Homo sapiens: one gene and its partner. The protein of the gene in region 1 interacts with the protein of each later gene in a biochemical or structural test. Each region holds a gene or a part of one and is shown on either strand. Other genes may lie near its edges.

What was found.
Region 2: the proteins of MPP7 (region 1) and PALLD interact in a test that uses a peptide from one of them, tested with the Homo sapiens proteins (one large-scale study listed by IntAct).

The regions. Positions count from the first base shown.
Region 1 is NC_000010.11:28,052,779-28,055,064, forward strand, and holds part of MPP7 (MAGUK p55 subfamily member 7), read right to left. Parts: intron 1,467-2,286; coding exon 1,287-1,466; 3' UTR 1-1,286. UniProt on the Homo sapiens protein: Acts as an important adapter that promotes epithelial cell polarity and tight junction formation via its interaction with DLG1. Involved in the assembly of protein complexes at sites of cell-cell contact.
Region 2 is NC_000004.12:168,510,552-168,514,051, forward strand, and holds part of PALLD (palladin), read left to right. Parts: intron 1-871; coding exon of another isoform or gene 872-953; coding exon 954-1,861; intron 1,862-3,500. UniProt on the Homo sapiens protein: Cytoskeletal protein required for organization of normal actin cytoskeleton. Roles in establishing cell morphology, motility, cell adhesion and cell-extracellular matrix interactions in a variety of cell types.

The sequences.
Region 1 (2,286 bases):
TAACATTTTTTTTTCCACTTTGAAAGTCACAGATGCAATGATTTTCGACGGGCAGGGCTTCACTGCATGCAAGAACGGCAGGATATGCTCTCTTATAGAACGGATAGACATTTCTAGCATTTTGAATTATATAATTCACTTGCTGAAAATCAGTAGTATCAAAGAAAAGTGAGAGAACCCATCTAAATATTTACAATATAAGAGTCTTTCCTAAACTTCTTTAACAATGGCAAGGTTAGGATGGTGTCTGGACAGTGTTAACAAGCATTTTGATGACAAAGAAATAACATCACATGAAAAGTTTTCTAAAATAAATCTTAGAGCAATTTAAAGAGGGGTGATCTATTGCACATAGATGAAAAATAATCTTTAATTGTATCAGTAATATGTAAAACAGGTTTTACATGTTTTAGAATAGAAATCCTTCTTCTAATTTATTGGAAAAATCCAAAACCAGCTAAAATAACATTTTGGGTGACTTCATAAATTGTCTTCTGAGGAATTACAAATAAAAATATCCTTTGTAATCATTTCTTGCCACAAGGCTACCATTCTTACTTATATTAATCCCAAAGGAAAGGCTTTTCGTTACATATATAATAACTGTTAAAAGTCTACTTTCCCTTATTAAATGTTGTTGAGTCACTGACAGGTACTCAAAAGGACTTCTCAAGCTATATTATGAAGGCCATTCACTCAAGGTAAAATTTCAGTTACTCCTTTAAGAATTATTTTAAAATGCACACACTGTGAACGTATTGCGAATATGTAAGAAAGTCTACACTTTTTGAATAGTAAGAGGACACCTTACTGCCTGCCCGGCTAAATCTGTGATGATCCACCCAGAAACAGCAGAGCTCACCTGTCTGTCTGGAGCTGCTCATGGCTGCTGAATTGATACCTTCAACAGCTAACATTCAAACTCGACAGCAGCAGCCACACCTGAGACCAGCAGAAGCGCTGAACTCCCATACATACTAAGCCTCTAGCTAAGTCTCTCTGAAAATTTCAGCCTCATCTTGGAGATAGAGCGGTATTGAAGACAACGAGAAGGTTTGAGGTTTTGCTTAGAATACAGTACTGTGCATATTTTGATTTCGGATCTTATACTAACACATGGCGTTTGAAATAAGGCTGTAAAAAGATACAAACAAAACCAGCATTCAACTTGAACCAAGATTGTACATCTATGACAGTGATATAGATTTAAAAACCCTACTACCAAAACTGTAATTGATTTCATCATGCACTCTATAGAAAAAGACAATTATGGAAATTTCTCTTAGTTATGAATGTAACCAGCTCACTGGCACCCAATGGGTCTCTGTCTCTAATTTGTCAAAAGTTGTTTTGAGCTCATTGAATGCCACAGTGAGGTCATCATTTATTATAATTTTGTCAAAAAGATGACCATATTGACTTTCCATTATCTGTGCAGATTTAATCATTTCTTGAAAATCTTCTTCCTACAAAAGGAAGTATTAAAAAAATAATTGGTTAACCAGGCCATTACCTCACTTCATATCAATGCAAACATTCTACAATTGGTTTACCTAATGCTGTTCTGTGTTCAGTCTTTCCCCTCAGCCAGAAATAAAAGTCATCCTCTTTAACCACAAGTGCTTCAGAAGCCATAATTTCTAATACTATTTCTATGATTTGCTTGTAACAAAAAACTACTCTGGCAAGAGTCAAAACTCCTGCCTTAACTGAATTGCAGGATAATGAGTCACTAGTCATCATTATGGGGAAATGTCAGTATTAAAATAGCTATTGGAGAAAAGAATTGTTTACTCTGATGTTTTGGCTGCATTATTTATGCTTATTCATAGGAAGGAATTTATAATATAAACTCCTTTTTCAGAGTTGGACAAATTTGTAAAAGGATGATTACCATGTTTTTTGTTTTTTGTTTTGAGATAGAGTCTCACTCTGTCACCCAGGTTGGGGTGCAGTGGTGCAATCCTGGCTCACCGCAACCTCTGCCTCCGGGGTCCTAGCAATTCTCCTGCCTCAGCCTCCCGAGTAGCTGGAATTACAGGAGCGTGCCGCCACACCTGGCTAATTTTTGTATTTTTAGTACAGATGGATTTTCTCCATGTTCACCAGGCTGGTCTGGAACTCCTGACCTCAAGTGATCCCCACCTGCCTCGGCCTCCCAAAGTGCTGGGATTACAGGCATGAGCCACCACGCCCGGCTGATTACCACGTTCCTTCGATGTCTCATTAAAAGTGTTTCAGGAGCCTTCGTGTCTCACATTTTTAAAGCCAGGAAGTATTTTAGTT
Region 2 (3,500 bases), on another chromosome or scaffold:
TTTCAGCCCCTGAGCCAAATCCATCCCAACCCTTTTTGTATGCCCTGCAAACTAAGAATGTTTTTCTCATTTTAAAACTATTGTTTAAAAATTAAATATCAAAATAATAATAGTTTTAACACATTAAAATGATATAAAATTCAAATATGAGTGTCCATAAAGTTTTATTGGCACACAGTCATGCTCATTCATTTCCATCATCTTTGGCTGGTTTCATGCTCATGCAGAGTTGAGTAATTATAATAGAGGCTGAACAGCTCACAAAGTCAAGAGTATCTACCATCTGGCCCTTTCCAGAAAAGTTTGCCCATCCCTGGCATACAGCACAGCTGTACTTCCAGCACCTGAAATTTAATAAGTGATTATTACCATCTGTTGGACTGTTGAGTGAATGAATATGAATGCACATAACTGGAGACAATAAAGTTTCAAAGATTTCACTGAAAACTATAAATAAATGAAAATTGGAATCCTTAAAATGCATTTTGTGGTTTAGGGTTGGATAATCAGAGTCAGATTTACTAAAAATATCAATATTCTATTGATCTCATTACATTAATCAATTAGAGTTTGAGTAAGGTGGGCGGGGGGCTGACTGTGAGCCCTATCCTACTAATAGTGCCTACTGCACACATCATCTTTTTGAATGATTTAATACTGCCTAGTGAGATATTTGATAGCACTCACAGGGCATGTATTAAAATCATAAAATGATCAACACAAGTATACTTGATATTTCTTCCAACTTGTAAAATAAAGAAAACTTATATTCATTCACTTTAATGTTTCTCCCAATTTGTGACTTACAAGTTTTATGATTAAAATGGGGAAAAAATCATTGCTACTAATGACATTCTATGCTGTCTTTCAGAACACAGTTTCAGAAAACAGTTTCCAGTGCCTCTGGCCTTCCTACTGAAAGCAGACACAGAGTGCATGAAGACCGTTCAAATATGTCAGGGACCTCCTCCCATGAGTCCTTCTATGACTCCCTCTCAGACATGCAGGAAGAAAGCAAGAATACTGACTTCTTCCCGGGCCTTTCTGCTTTCCTCAGCCAGGAAGAGATAAACAAGAGTCTTGACCTGGCCCGGAGAGCCATAGCCGACTCCGAAACAGAAGATTTTGACTCGGAAAAGGAGATCTCGCAGATTTTCAGTACTTCTCCTGCAAGCCTCTGTGAACATCCTTCCCATAAGGAGACCAAATTGGGTGAACACGCCTCGAGGAGACCTCAGGATAACAGGTCAACACCTGTCCAGCCTCTGGCAGAGAAACAAACTAAGAGTATCTCTTCACCTGTTTCAAAGAGGAAACCTGCCATGTCACCCCTGCTCACCAGGCCCAGCTACATCCGGAGCCTCCGAAAGGCTGAAAAGCGTGGTGCAAAAACTCCCAGCACAAACGTAAAGCCCAAAACGCCACATCAAAGAAAGGGTGGCCCCCAGAGCCAGCTGTGTGACAAGGCAGCTAATTTAATTGAGGAGCTAACATCCATATTTAAAGCCGCAAAGCCAAGAAACAGAAGCCCAAATGGGGAGTCCTCGTCACCAGACAGTGGGTACCTGTCTCCTAAAAATCAGCCGTCAGCCCTGCTGAGTGCCTCAGCCAGCCAGAGCCCTATGGAAGACCAAGGGGAGATGGAAAGAGAGGTCAAGTCCCCTGGGGCCAGGCATTGCTACCAGGACAACCAGGACTTGGCAGTGCCACACAACCGCAAGTCTCACCCACAGCCCCACAGCGCCCTCCACTTCCCAGCTGCACCTCGATTCATCCAAAAGCTGAGGAGCCAAGAAGTAGCAGAAGGGAGCCGAGTTTATCTGGAGTGTAGAGTCACTGGAAACCCCACTCCTCGAGTCAGGTATGAATTTTTGTATTATGCATAGCAAATGATCTTGTTGACTTTGGTGTTACTTTAATATGGGAGGAAGAAAGATTTCCTGTGTCATTAGCCCTCTGGAGACTGAGGTAGAGTACTTGCAAGGAGAGAAGCAGCCCAGAATCGCCACTATGAGTTGTCCTAGTTGTCCCTGGCCTGATATATCTGTGGTCATGCACCCTCTGTGCTAAGGAAGGAAGGCAAAGGACTTGAGAAGGCAAAGAGCAGTGGAAACAGTTTGTTCTCTAAGATGGTGGAACTAGTAACAAATAGGCACACTTAAGATGTGAAACTTATTTACTCGAAGTACTGTGAAAAGTGTGTGTATATTTGAATATGAGTTGCTAAAGACGGTTGAAAGCATGGCTAAAACTAGCTGCTATCTAGAAGTGAAAGGCACGAGTGTGTAGAGGCCAACCTTCAGATTAGCCCCCAATAACGCATTAAAGGGAACAATAAACACCGAGGCCTACTTGAGGGGGGAGAGTAGGAGAAGCCTGAGGATCAAAAAACTACCTATCAGGTACTAATCTCATTACCTGGGTGACAAAATAATCTGTATGCCAAAGCCCTGCAACATGTAATTTACCCATGTAACAAACCTGCACACGTATCCCCGAATGTAAAAGTTGGAAAGAAAAAAAAAAAAGATTCTCATATACAAGAAACAAAAACCAAACAAAAATTATCCCCCAAATGGATAATCTAGTCTCAGGCATGGACTAAATAGGCACATATTCAGTAACATAAACACACACACACCCCTTCAATGTGATGCAAAGAAGGAAGGCAGAACTTTCCTAAGAAAGAAAGATAAATCAAGTCAGGAGCTCCGCAGGTCTGCCCGTTATTCCTACACAGGCTCTGGCCACTAGAGCATGGAGACAGCAAGAAATAACAGTGAAGGGAGTATGCACTTAGAGTTAATAGGCACTCATACCACCATGTTCATTAGAATTTCTATACATTCTTCTGACTTCATTGTAGAGTTTATACCTTCCCCTGAGCAAAAATGTTAAGGGGAAAGAGATCCTGGAGTCCCCCTGCAGGGTTTCCAGTCATGATTCCATTGCCCAAGTTACTCTACCCCTCTGTGACTCAGTTTCTTCATCTGTGAAATGGGAAGTATAATGATACCTACATCATTCTGTTTTATGATTAAATAATACATGGGGAAAATTAAAGCAGTACCTTGCAGCTAGTAACTGCTGCAGTAGTGTTACCTATTATCTTTATTATTTCTCATTTCTTAATTTTATATGGCAAAATGAAAATAACAAGTCAGGATTATACTACACAAATAATGAATATTCATTTATCTGGGAAGTTTTGCTTTTATTCATGCAGAATGCTTTACCTAAATTACATAAATATTTAAAAAGTTAACTCAAGGGCCAGGCACAGTGGCTCATGCCTGTAATTCCAGCACTTTGGGAGATTGAGGTGGGTAGATCACCTAAGGCCAGGAGTTCGAGACAAGCCTGGCCAACATGGTGAAACCCCCTCTCTACTAAAAATACAAAAAATTAGCCAGGCATGGAGGCGAGTGCCTGTAATTCCAGCTACTCAAGAGGCTGAGGCACAAGAATCACTTGAACCTGGGAGGCAGAGGTTGCAGTGA